Linked DNA regions of Homo sapiens: regions 2 and 3 are each linked to region 1. The links come from fine-mapping of genetic effects on gene expression. A gene starts in region 1. Each other region holds a variant in brackets. All regions are shown on one strand. Distances are from middle to middle.

Region 1 (4,238 bases):
TCACAACAGTCCGGAAGCCTGAACCAAGTTCACTTGGCAGGTAACAGGAACAACCCTAGGAGGAAGTCCTGAAGGATATCAGATACCATACTTCCTTTACTGCCACATACTTTTCATTTCAGAACCACCAGGATATATTTATGATGCTTTTTGACTAACACTCACCAAGCATTCTGGCTGACACAAACTGCAGAAACTGGCATACTCTAGGGAAGGTCCCTTGTGAGGTCTTTAAGTAGCTTAGATGAGTAAAACACTCAGACTACTTCTATAATGAAGTAGTCTCAGCCGCTCATAAACTCCTTCATTCCCAGCAATCAAGAAGCAGCTGTTAAAATCCTGGAATCTTCCTAGTAGCAGATCTGAAATACCTCCAGGCTGACCCAGGAAGCTTCACAACTGCTTTCCTCTCCTTCCCCTCCCCTGCCTCAGGAGTGCCAGCCTGGCAGGAATAAAGATGACCAAGGAAGGAAAAAAGAGGGTAGCGGATCTGGTGAAAGCAGAGACGCAGACTCCCTTCATTTCCACTACAGAGAAATACCAGCCCTCTGTGCCAACTAACCAGGTTTCTCCTTTCCTCTCCCACCCCCACCCCTCCAAACACGCATTAACTTCTGCAGTCTGGTGTGTCTGGCATTTCCAGAGCGAGCGATCTCAGCAATCTTGAGCCCTTTCCTCAAAGATTCTGAACCAGGAACTTCCTTTCCGCGCCAGCCAGAGTTTGCGGTCCAACCCACGTTAAGACTCAGCTTCCATTTACCTTGTAACCTGTACGGACGACGCTGCTTCTGGGGTCAAGTTCAAGATGAAAGTTCCCTCCTCACCTCCCAAGTTAACTCCAGCAGGGAACAACGCCACTGAGAACGGTCCCAACACTGGAGGCACGCGGATCTGGAGCTGGCAGGAGGGGGCTGGGAGAAGGCCGTTGCCGAGCCTGGCGTCCTCCGCCCCTTGGCCGCAGCGCCGCGTTTCTACCTGGCCAACGCCACATTTCCTCCCGGAGCTTTACACAATAAGTCCAGTAAGTTTTGAGAACACCGGTCCAGGGACCTTTCTGTCTGCAAACACACCACACAATGCCTAGAGCTTCCTTCCCAGCCAGGCGTTCCGGAAAGCCGCCGCGCCAAAGCCGGGAGCCCCGCACACCCACAGCGCTGCGCGCCCGCACCCCAAAGTCCTCCAGGAAGCCAGTGCCCTGATATCGTCCCCCGAAAATGACCACTCTGCATCCAAGAACAAGGGGGCTCACAATCTTGACAATTACCGCTCTTCTCAGCGCCCCACCCCTAAAGAAAAACCCCCAACGTCTAATCCTAACTCACCCCCACCCCCAATAAAGGAGTGTGGATATGCTAATCGCAGTGTTCTTGGAAGCAAAGCAATAGACTTTCAGCCCAGACTGGGGCAATACCATGCCTCCGGCTTAAGTTCTCTCGGCAACTTCGCGACCCGCGCACCCCAACACTCCGGGGGGCGCCCAGGACCCCGCGGTGCCAGGCGCGCCTCCCCCCGCCTCCCCCGCGCCAGGTACCAGGCGTAGCCCAGGCCCTTGCCAAGCCCGAGGGCTACAGAGAAGGCGGGAAAGGGGGCGAGCGGGCGCGCCGGGCGGGGGTGGTCCCAGAACTCGAGCGTGCCCCAAGCGTTCCCGGTTCCCACCACACCGGTTCCAGGGGAGGCCGGCTCGGTCCGGCGCGGGGGAACCGCGCAAGGAAGGTGCGGACTCCCCAAAGCCGCCGAGAGACCAAGGCCCGGGGCGCCCAACATGTCTGTGCCTATTCCCGGAAAGCTCCCGGGTGTGCCCGGCGGAGGAGGGGGCGCTCCAGAAACTTTCCCACACGCCTTTCCCTTCTCCCATCACCCTCTCCACCCCGGGTCCCTCTCGACCTCTCCGCACACTGGCAGCTGGCCATGCCCGGGGCGCTCGCAGGCCCGCGGCGGAGTCCGGGCTGCGGGAGTTACCTGCCGGGAAAGTTTCCAGCTCCTCAGCGCGGTTCCCCACACCCAGGGCCGGGCCTCGGGGCGAGGCCAGCTCGGCGCTCCGCGGCTGCCTCTCCTCCGGCTCCCGAGGCGGCCGCCGCTCCAGCAGCTGCCACAGCAAAGCCTCCGCTCCGGCCCGTCCCCCCGCCTTGCTCGGCCCACACCGGGGCCTCATTGGCAGCGCGAATCCCCGCCCTTGCGCGTGTTCCCGAAGGCACCTTCCTCTCGCGCGCCCGCCCCGGCCGCGCCTCCCGCGCCCCTCCCCGCCCCGGGCTGCGGCGGATCCAGGGACCGGCTGGAGCGCGGAGCGCGAACTTTCCGCGGGGCTTGGGCGCGAGGTCCCCTTGTCCCGCCTCTCGGCGCCAGGTCCGGGCCTGAAGCACCCTACCATCCCTCTGGGCACCGGGTCCCCCGGGGCTGCGCCTAGGCCCCTCTGGGACCAAAATGAGATGGGCCATAGTCTTTTTTACAGCCTCTTCAAAATCAATAAAGCGACCCGGCCTTCCCTCCTCGCTGCTTTTTTACCACAGCCGAGGAGGACATATGGGAGCAATTAACCGAGCTGGAGTTTCCGTGGACGCTTTGGGGTGGCTTGTGCGGCTTTCTTGGATTTTCTCTGCCTCACTTAACTACACACAAACACAAACACACTTTCTGGGGCCAGAATCAGCTAAATGAGCTGGAAGGTCTAAGAAGGCATCTCACCGGCTGCGTCTTTTTATTTCCCAAAAGGAATGGGGGACGTTCTGGGGCCGGTGATTTCCCGGGCGTCCCTGGGGCCGCGGGTCTGGAGCCTCCTGCGACCGCTCCGGGCTGGCCCGTGCTGTCTGCGCTACATTCACAGAGGGCCAGCGTCGTGCTTCTGTCGGAAGGAGGTGGGAGGGACGGAGGGGAGAGAACACACAAAGATGCTATTATTTTGTCGGTTGGTGGCAGTAAATTAAACTCCTGAGTTCCCAAAATGTTTTGTTATTCTCCAGCAGAGCAAAAACCAGGATAGGGACTAGGGATTCGGGTGTCCTGGGTTCTCCAAGATCCTCCCAGGAATCCCAGGCAGCCAAATTGGCCTAAGGGACTCTGCTCACTTAATACCCGAAGCTCTCTAAGACAGCCTTCGTTGATCTAGTTGACGAAGGAAGGATCAACTAGAACTGCCGCTGCCTTGTGTGGCCAGCGGGAATTGTGCACGGGTCACCCCATTGGTGTGTCTGGAGCAGAGAATAGAGAAGTTGCTGTAAACCGATTTATTGGTAACCCCTAACCTTGCTGTGGCAAACCCGCCTTAAAATACGATTGTGTTTTAAACAAGTTTCCTCATAAAAACTTCAACCTCACGCAGAGCTTCCCTATATAAAGACACCAGCAGGAGGGGTGTCCATATTTAAAGTTCTTATGAAAAGGGACAGGAAGCAAAATGCCACACAATCTCTTTTCATAAATTAAAAAGACTGAAATGGACTGGATTTTTCACCCATAGTTTCAAAGGCCTGATTACTGCTGTGTTGATATTTGAGCAGTAAACACATCAGCGGCCTTGAAGTATTCCCGAAACAAGGCAGGATAGAATATTGAAAATAAAAATACAAACTTAAACCAGAAAACTATTGACTTCTTTCTCCATCTGAAATGTTTCATTGCTGAAAAATATGGTAATGTTTTATTTAATTTATCTTGAAACGAAATCTTTCAACAGACAAAAAAGCCAGACAGCAACCTTAATGATAAAAGAATGATGCAAACAAAAGACAAAAACTCCAAGCAGTCTAACTAATCTGAAATATTAAAATATAAGAGAAACAATCCTAAGAAAATAGACTGGTAAGATTTCCTGCTCCAGACTTCTTTATAATGGGAGAAAGGTATAATGGATGAAATTTATCATTTGTACCACATTTTTCTGGTTTTGGCTCTTCTCAGCTGTATTTCCAAATTTTTGATGAAATTGCTTAGTTAAATAGGGCTTTGAAGGCAGTGCAATTTTTTTCCCTCTACTCTCAAAGCTCCTTAAGTAGCAAGTAGAAAATCACATAAATATGTTCATTACTGACATCATCTTTAAATTATTTTTAGTTGAAAAAGTTTTGTCTTTATAGTTTCAGAAGTCACAGTCACTAAAGAAGTAACTTCATCACTGCCTAGTTAGGAGTATTTAACATTCTAAACAGGCATACAGCTAGCAATCTGAAATGTGCACACAGAAAGGCCCTGTCTCCCCTTCTTCCTGTAGTGTTTATATAATCCAAACTACATATGTTATTATG
Region 2 (4,238 bases), 89 kb before region 1:
ATAGAGATGGAGGTCTCATTAGGTTGCCCAGGCTGGTCTCTAAACTCCTGGGCTCAAGTAATTCTCTTACTTCGGCCTCCCAAAGCACAGGGATTATAGGCATGAAGTACAGCACCTAGTCTGGTTTTTCTTAATTTGCATAGCTGGAAAATATGACATTAAACTATAATTTATTCTCTAAGACACATAGATCCAGTCATTCATTCTTTATTCAACAACCCATTCTACAAGCTGAACTCTATTCTACTATTCTATTCTTTATAGTTTTGTCCTAAGCAAAAACACTTCAGATTTAAGTATAAGTTATTAAAAAGCATAGTAAATTTACAGTCACAAGTAATATGAATTTAAAAGAGTTCTGGGCATGAAATTGGAAATCAAATGCTTAAGTTCTGATGCACCAAAATTAAGTGGAAACTATTGTGGTGAAATCACCTTCCACCTATATTTAAAATATTCTGTACATTCATACAGGTTGTTTCAGGAAGAGTTTCTACCAAAACAAACAAACAAACAAACAAACAAAACACCTTACCTTAGCCAGTATTTCAAGTTACTAGAAAATTAGTATTTTGATAAGTACTTGGCAGAAAGAAAATTTCACTTTTGGAGGAGACGATAAAGAAGTTGCTTCCTTCTAAGTACAAGAGCCATCTTCATATACCTGTAAAGGGATTTGTTCAATCCAAATTCTAACACCATTTCTTCCATAAAGCCTTCTCAGGCCACAATGGTCAAAAGATATGTTTTCTCTAATTCTACATCCTGCCTTGTTCTAATATGATGATAGATCAAAATTATGGTGAAAAATGTTGAACTCCACAAATCCCCCATGGCATCTAGCAATGTACCTTACACACAACAAACACTAAAAAAAAAGTCTTTAAATGAGTGGCAGGGTTATTATGGAAGGGAAATCAAAATCAACGGCAATTCTCTTCCAACAAGGAGTTTGGACTAATAATTTAAGAATTCTGGTACCAAGTACTAATTCCCAACTTTATGGTCAAAATAATTTGGTGTATACATGAAGAAGTGCACATTTAACACAGTAAGATCTGTTCAAATAACAGGCTTTCAGAAGCACTGGCTGCAGGTAGGTTTTATTTGGGTATTTCAAATAGGCACACAGAAGGGATAAGTGCAAAGACAGTAGCCAAAAATCTGAAATCAATACACTCTCCTTCAAAAAAAGGAAGGGTTCAGAAAGGGCAGCATTTCCAGCAATAATCATGATGTCTCCCAGGCCAATGGCTACTGTGCAAGGCAGAGCTCAGTCTTGCAGAGAGCTCCTGCTCACTTACAGGCAGGAGTTCCCTGTCTTCATTTCCCTGTCACCTGAGTGCTCCCTAGCTGAGACTTACCTCCCTACCACAGCAGCAAAACACGGCTAACTAGAAGACAAAACTCCAATATTGTCACTAGTACTGTATATCATCCAGGTATTTACATAGATGTTTAGATATATTAGAGAAAGCAAAAGAATTTCATAAGCCCACCCACTTCAAAACACACCACAGAATCACCTCATCTTCGAAGCCTTCTTCATCTTATTTTAATTGTTTATACACCTGCTTCCTTCACCAGGCTTTGGGCCTCTGAATGGTCAGACCCTGCCTTGCTCCCCACCCCAGCAAAGTATTTGTTTTCCAATTTCAACATCAATGAATGGTTGTGGAGAAACATAATTTTAATCTATAATTTTCAAAGGGAATTATTGTACCTAAAAACAGACTGTTATCCTTTAATAACTTTAAGTAAAATTAATATCCTTCTACAGGCTATGAGCAATGGAGAAACTTGCCCTGGCTCTCCTGGACCAGCAAGTGGCAGAAATTGGGTTACAACCTAATTTTCCAATTAAGGAATGAGTGTTGGGTTAGCAATTGCAGGTTTTCATTCGACATACAT[C/T]TGTACGTTGCTACCCTGTGCCAAACAACAAGGGACACAAAGGCAAGTACAACTGACAGAGGAGGAAGACAACATGTGGACAAACATGAGCAGGAAGCTAAAAACATTCATGCCTCCATTTTGTCTACAAGGTAAAAACAAGGTAAGAGGTGCAGTGAAGGTTCAGGATAGCCCTGTAGATGAGAGGAAGGCAAGTAAGAGATTAAAAGGACAGCTGGCTGGGCATGGTGGCTCACGCCTGTAATCCCAGCACTTTGGGAGGATCGTTTGAGCCCAGGCCTTTGAGACCAGCCTGGGCAACAGAAGGAGATTCTCAGAAAAACCAAAAACAATAAAACGGACAGCTGAACAGCTCTGATCATCCAAACTAGGCTGCAGACCAGGCCATAACACCCGATTATGAAACTGCTCCTATCCTCAAAGGCTCACAAGTAGCATCATCATATCGTGCAACTCATCTATGGTTCTGGGTTAGTGGAATATTTGCGGGCTGGCACACACCATTTGCCTGCTCCTGTAGTTCACGGATATGTCCTATGAGGAGAAATGGTACACATGCCAGGAAACTCCTATGATTGAAGCCAATGGCTGGATGTGATATTCAAGCTAGACCTGGACTTTCCTAATCTGCCCAACTTCATGGACGGGAAGAACAAGGTCACCCAGAGCAATGCCATCTTGTGCTACACTGCTGGCAAGCACATGTGTGGTAAGACTGAAAAGATTCAAGTGGACATTTTAGAGAACCAAGCAACCAGTTTCTGCACACAACTGATACAGTGCTGTTACAACTCTGACCATGAAAAACTGAAACCTGGCCAGGCGCAGTGGCTCACGCCTCTAATCCCAGCACTTTGGGAGGCTTCTCTTTTCTCGTGGATCACAAGTTCAGGGGATCAAGACCATCCTGGCTAATACGGCGAAACCCCGTCTCTACTGAAAATACAAAAAGTTAGCTGGGCGTGGTGGCGGGCGCCTGTAGTCTCAGCTACTCAGGAGGCTGAGGCAGGAGAATAGCTTGAACCCGGGAGGCGGAGGTTGCAGTGAGCCGAGATCGCACCATTGCACTCCAGCCTGGGCGACAGAGCAAGACTCCATCTCAAAAAAAAAAATAAATAAATAAAATAAATAAAAACCAACCCTGAAACCTCAGTACTTGGAACAGCTACCTGAACAACTGAAACAATTCTCCATGTTCCTGGGAGAAATTCTCATGGTTTGCAGGGGAAAGCTCACCTTTGTGGATTTTCCCATCTATGACGTCCTGGATCAAAAGTGCATGTTTGAGCCCAAGTGCCTGGATGAGTTCCCACATCTTAAGGCTTTCATGTGCCGTTGAGGCTTTGGAGAAAATTGCTGCCTACATGCAGTCTGACTGCTTCTTGAAGATGCCTATCAACAACAAGATGGCCCAGTGGGGCAACAAGCTTTTATGCTGAGCTAGAGGCAGACTTGCACTGCTAGTTTTGTTTCATCCGTCCCTAGGGGGCCTCCACTCTTTTTTGTTCTTTTAAATAAACAGCACTTGGGCTAAAATAAATAAATAAATAAATAAATAAGCTATGCTGTGCAATTCCCTTCTCTGACTCTCAGCCCCAAGAACCATCCAGGGATGGTCCAGAGAATGCAGGATCTGATCAATGATCAGGAGTTCACAGTGCAGGGGCCAGTACAGGAGTGCTCAGAGTGGTGTGCTGTGAAATCAAGGCTGGTCAGGAAGGGAATGAAGCCCTGAGAGGTAGGATAGCCAGAGAGAAAAAGTATGGTGTCTCAAAGAGATCAAAGAACAAACACAGTCGGAATAAATGAATGAGGAAGTTGAAAGAGTCTGGTTCTTTTTAAAGAATTTTTAAAATTTGGATGTGGAACAATTCCAGACAATGATAAAGCCCACAGGATTAGTAAAGGCAAATCTGTGATGTGAACCCAGGCCTGACTTGAAAGCTCAGGCACTGAATAGCTGCCTCCAAAGTCCTCAATGAACTGAGGGTAGGGGGAATAGGGAGGTGATCAGGACAGCACAGAATACACGCCTCAAAGAAAGGGAGGCTTTGCATGAGGATGAAAGTGTAGCAGTTATGGATACCAGCATCACCTCAGGGACCCAGTAGCCATGCAGCTAAAAAGCTCCTGGAGAACCACCTAGGGTTTGAGTATGAACCACAGTCTGATCGTGGTCTCCTCCTCTCACATAACTCAGTAGAAGGCGTGGCTAGGGCCATAGAGTCTTTCTTTGTGTAAGGTTTAGGGCAACCGGAAACCCAAGTCCCAATCCTCCTTATGACAGTTAGCTCCACAACAACCACACTCAGAATTACATTCTCTTT
Region 3 (4,238 bases), 130 kb before region 1:
AAAAAATACTGTTCATCATTTGATGTATTGAGTCACTGCCATTTTTAAACAGCATCTCTGCCCTAAACTTTTCCAATTAAAATTACCAAGATAATGAAGCCAAATTACCACTGTGAGACACTAATTTGCTGTACAAATTTGGGCAGTGAACAAGCACTGCTCCGTTAGAGATGTATCTGCTTAGTTTATTTAATTATCATTTGGACCAAAAACATCTAATAGAGAGAACATCCCAAATCCACCAGAAGCTTGTATGTTTCAGAACTATTAACCTTCTATTCTAAGGCCTTGCAAAGAATTTAGCAAAAATAAATTTCATTCCTATGGAGAAAAACTTGAGGATATTTTCTTGAAAAAAGACAAAAACTAATGTGGTCCACACACATATAAGGAGACATGGCTTCATCAGGGATTCTTCTGCCTCCATGCCTGTAACCTCCATGAAACCTTTCTGGGTAGCCACACTCTCCAGGCTTGCCATGCCATTCAATCCCACCTAAAGTCCCACTAAAACACTGAATTTGTGAATAAAATTATATCTGACATGCAGTCTTCCCTGAAGTCTCTCAGGTTTTCCCCAGTCCTAAGGCCCAAGCAACATTAATTCATTTGCAGTAGCACAGACTATAGGTAGGCAAATTGTACAAAAGGTCAAATCTCTGCACTTGGCATTACCTTCAACAGAGATCCCTTAAAAATATCGATAGTTTCTGAATTATCTCTATTATCTATTATATAGAGATGAGGTATAAGACATCTTGTTTGTCCTCAAGCATCAGACAGAGGAAGCACATAATGTTTTTAAGAAGAAAAAACTACTCAGTGATACTTTTAAAAGCATAGTAGGGCAGACTTTATTCAGGACCATCTTAACACATATAGGGACCAATGCAGTAGGATTTTGCAGTTAGGGAAAGAGTTGATTGAGCTCAACTCCAAATACCGCATGGGGAAGTGGGAATTTATAGCCAAGGAACAGGGTAGGTATCGGTGCATGAAAAATTACTAAGAGGCAACATCAGGGGTAGGAAGGCAATTCTTGTTAAAGACAGGTCAGGGTGACCAGATGTCACCTGGAAGATGGTGGAGGATGAGGAATCTAATCAGATTTGGGTGGGGGTGGGGAGGCGTTCTTGCTAAACTTAGTAGCATGCTTCTTAGCTAAACCTGGATTTTACAAGAAAATGTGTGCGCACACACACACACAGACCTAGGAGAAAGTTCAGGAGCATGACTACAGTGTAGCCAAGCAAAGTTTTTTTGTTTTGTTTTGTTTTGTTTTTTTTTTTGGTCAATATACCCACTAATTCAGGGGAAAAGGACAAATGACGTACCTGATAATAAAGAAAAAGTAAAACACTGTGCATACTTTTTGGGAAGAGTAATTCCAATCAGGATAACCCAGTATGACAGGCAGTGTGGGAACTATGATTTGAAGGAAGAGAAGAAATGTGACAAAGAGATACAGCAGTGAGGGAGGGCAAAGAAGGAAGGACGGACATTCCAGGAACTTCCCCAAATACTGATAAACAGGTCAAATTCCTTGGCACAGGAAATTACTTCATACCAAAAAGGTTCCTGAGTTCCAGCTAATTAATGGATTGTAAACAATGTTGTCCTAAACCAGAAAATTCTGCAACAATAAAAGATTTTGGACACTCACAAATTCATAGCACCGTTTCTAACATTCAGAGCCTTTAAGG[G/A]TGCCCTCCTAATTTTACCCGCACATAAACCTCAAAGATCTACTAAATGAGTCAGCATAGGTGATCTCAAGTAATACAAATATTACCAGGAAATCAGAGAAACAGATACCATTTCACAGCCCTAGGCACATTTTTGATAGATTCTGAATATGTTTACATGTAATTGAGAAGAATCCTTACACTGGCATATGATCAACTGGGCCCCAAATTATCCGCCTTTTGTAAACACTCCACAAACCTTAAAAAAAAAAAATCCAAGAATTTTTAAAACTCAAGGTATCAGCATTTTAGAAAGGCTTTCCTCACATGTGAATCATAACCTCTCAAAGTTCTGTTTTGTTTTTTTTGGGTAATGTTAAGTGTAAAACACATTGATAGAGGGAAGCCAAAATACTTCCAAAGTATAATAGGAATAATCCAAAGTCTGTTTCCCCCACCCCCCTTTACAAGTCTGAGTTTTCACAAACAAACTTTATAGCTGTTCAAATGCTAGATGATGTAATCAAATGAAATACATCAGTATATACTAGGTAGTAATAAATAGACTATTGTCAGATGACATTTGCCTACATCCATAACCTTTAAACACACCACGTATGAGTTTGGATTACAGTCATGTGTCACTTAATGATGAGGATACATTCTGAGACAGGCGTCATTAGGTGATTTTGTCATTGTGCGAACATCCTCAAGTGTACTTCACAAATCAAGGTGGCATAGCCTACTATATACCTAGGCTATATGGCATAGCCTATTGCTCCTAGGCTACAAACCTGTACAGCACGTTACTATACTGAATGCAGTAGGCAACTATTAATGTAGTGGCAAGTATCTGCATATCTAAACATAGAAAAGGTACAGTAAAAACACAGTATTATAACCTCATGGGACCACCATCATACATGCAGTTTGTCATTGATCAAAAGAAACATCATTAGTCGGTGCCATAACTGTATAGTGCTCCTTAATTCATCAGCAAGAAAACAACAAAATTGCTGGTTAACATCAGTACTGATAACAAAATCTTTAATCTTTATAAAAATCTAGCCTGGTAGTCCAAACAGGATGAATCTATTAAAACCATACTTTTTCCTTAAATTAAAAAAAAAAAAAGATTTATTTCTTCTAGAAGATACTGCGACAAAGAAAAAACATTGTCCCAGAAGATTTCTCATGGGCACTAGTTTTGCTTATTTTCAATGCAGGTACTACATATATAACCAAGGCAGCTCCTTCATTGCCTGTTTACCTGGGGATTTTTTGTTCACTCTTGATTGCACCAAGTGAGACTGTCGAGGCAGCAAAGGTGAGGAAGGCAGAGACATCGAGACACCTTTGGCCAAGCTCACCCTATAGGTGTCCTCTGCTGTGGGAAGACTGCTCACAGGAGAGTCAGCACTGTGGTCAAGGTGCAGGACTGGAGAAGTCTCTGGACCAAAGTCACTTCCTAGAGTAGAGAGAGAATACTTAGGTTAAACCATCCATTCATTATAAGTTGATGCAAATTTAACTCCTATAAACTATATTCTCAGAATATAATTCCCACATATCAGATGTGTGTATTGAATTTTTTTAAATGACTTTTCCCCCACTACTCTTGAAACTTTTTACCCTGTGAGGGAAAACTCAAGCATCAGTGAACTCTGCTCCATGTGCCTTTCTGCACTACCCTAACTGATCTGGTTTCAATCCCTAACAAAGGATCCAGGAAGCCACTGATCTGGGATTAGATCAAGGTCAAGTATGAATGATCCACAAGAAGCTTTGATCTCAGAAAAGGAAAAGGAGAGGGCTTACTAGCCTTACATGAGTATCAGTAAAACAGATTCAGATACCAACCCTTCCAGAACTCCCAGGCCTCCACTGCTCCTCTCTAATAAGAAAAGACTAAGTGAGAGTGTAGTCTACATCCACATTCCTCCCCAGCACCATCCCTTGGCTCCCATCCCATCTACTCAACACTCCCCATGACACAGGGCCACCCTCCTAAAACTCAAACAGCCCCAAACCAGTCATGGGACTGGAAACATTGCTCACTTATTAGGCAGCTTCCGCTTGACACTCCACCCCTAAACAAGCTTGGGAACAAACAAGCTTACTATTAGGAAATTAAACATTGTTAAATATGGTAAACCCCAAGTTTCTCCTCAAAAAAACCAGTATGTCAGTATGTTCAGCTCTTATTCTTTGATTCTCCATTTTAAAGTTTAACTTCCTGGTTCTCTTTGGCTTCTCGCTTCTAGTTTCAGTCAACAACTTTCCCGCCAATCCTAATTAGTAGTTCACGTCTGTTCCCTGGTTACCTGCTCTGTCCTGACTCATCCCGGTCACCTGCTCTGACCTAAGTCACCTTTAGTTACCTGTTCCTCACCGTCCTTCCCACCAAACCCCGCCATTCTGGCTCATGCCCCTGCCCTCTTTAAAACAGTCAGTCAGAACTAGCTTAGACTGTGTGGTCCAACCCTAGCCAATAGGGGAACAACACAGCAGCAGGGGCTACCTGCGTCAGGAATAAGAACTCCTGCCCCTCCCCTG

Alleles and levels. Positions count from the first base shown, and alleles are read on the strand shown. Sizes are in standard deviations (SD) of each study's normalised expression. Not every link is listed here.
For the expression in tibial artery of the gene that starts at base 2,102 in region 1, C is the high allele of the variant in region 2 and T is the other (small effect, 0.21 SD a copy in GTEx).

Evidence for each region. PIP is the estimated chance that this variant, and not a neighbour inherited with it, causes the effect.
Region 2: its variant is fine-mapped to the expression of TANC1 in tibial artery (GTEx, PIP above 0.99). The same link has a PIP of 0.9 or more in testis.
Region 3: its variant is fine-mapped to the expression of TANC1 in lung (TOPMed, PIP above 0.99).

What each region holds. Positions count from the first base shown.
Region 1 is chr2:158,966,504-158,970,741 of GRCh38, reverse strand. It overlaps TANC1 (tetratricopeptide repeat, ankyrin repeat and coiled-coil containing 1), which reads right to left and starts at 2,102. Exons shown (of 27, transcript NM_033394.3): 1 at 1,960-2,102. RefSeq lists silencers at 2,067-2,146, 2,207-2,316.
Region 2 is chr2:159,055,104-159,059,341 of GRCh38, reverse strand. The region is part of intron 2 of TANC1 (tetratricopeptide repeat, ankyrin repeat and coiled-coil containing 1); the gene reads right to left. It also overlaps the pseudogene GSTM3P2. Among named protein-coding and RNA genes, the nearest start is that of TANC1, 89 kb to the right of the region's middle. The variant C/T (reference allele first, on the strand shown) is at 1,912.
Region 3 is chr2:159,096,549-159,100,786 of GRCh38, reverse strand. It overlaps TANC1 (tetratricopeptide repeat, ankyrin repeat and coiled-coil containing 1), which reads right to left. Exons shown (of 27, transcript NM_033394.3): 4 at 2,953-3,150. Among named protein-coding and RNA genes, the nearest start is that of MIR6888, 88 kb to the left of the region's middle. The variant G/A (reference allele first, on the strand shown) is at 1,704.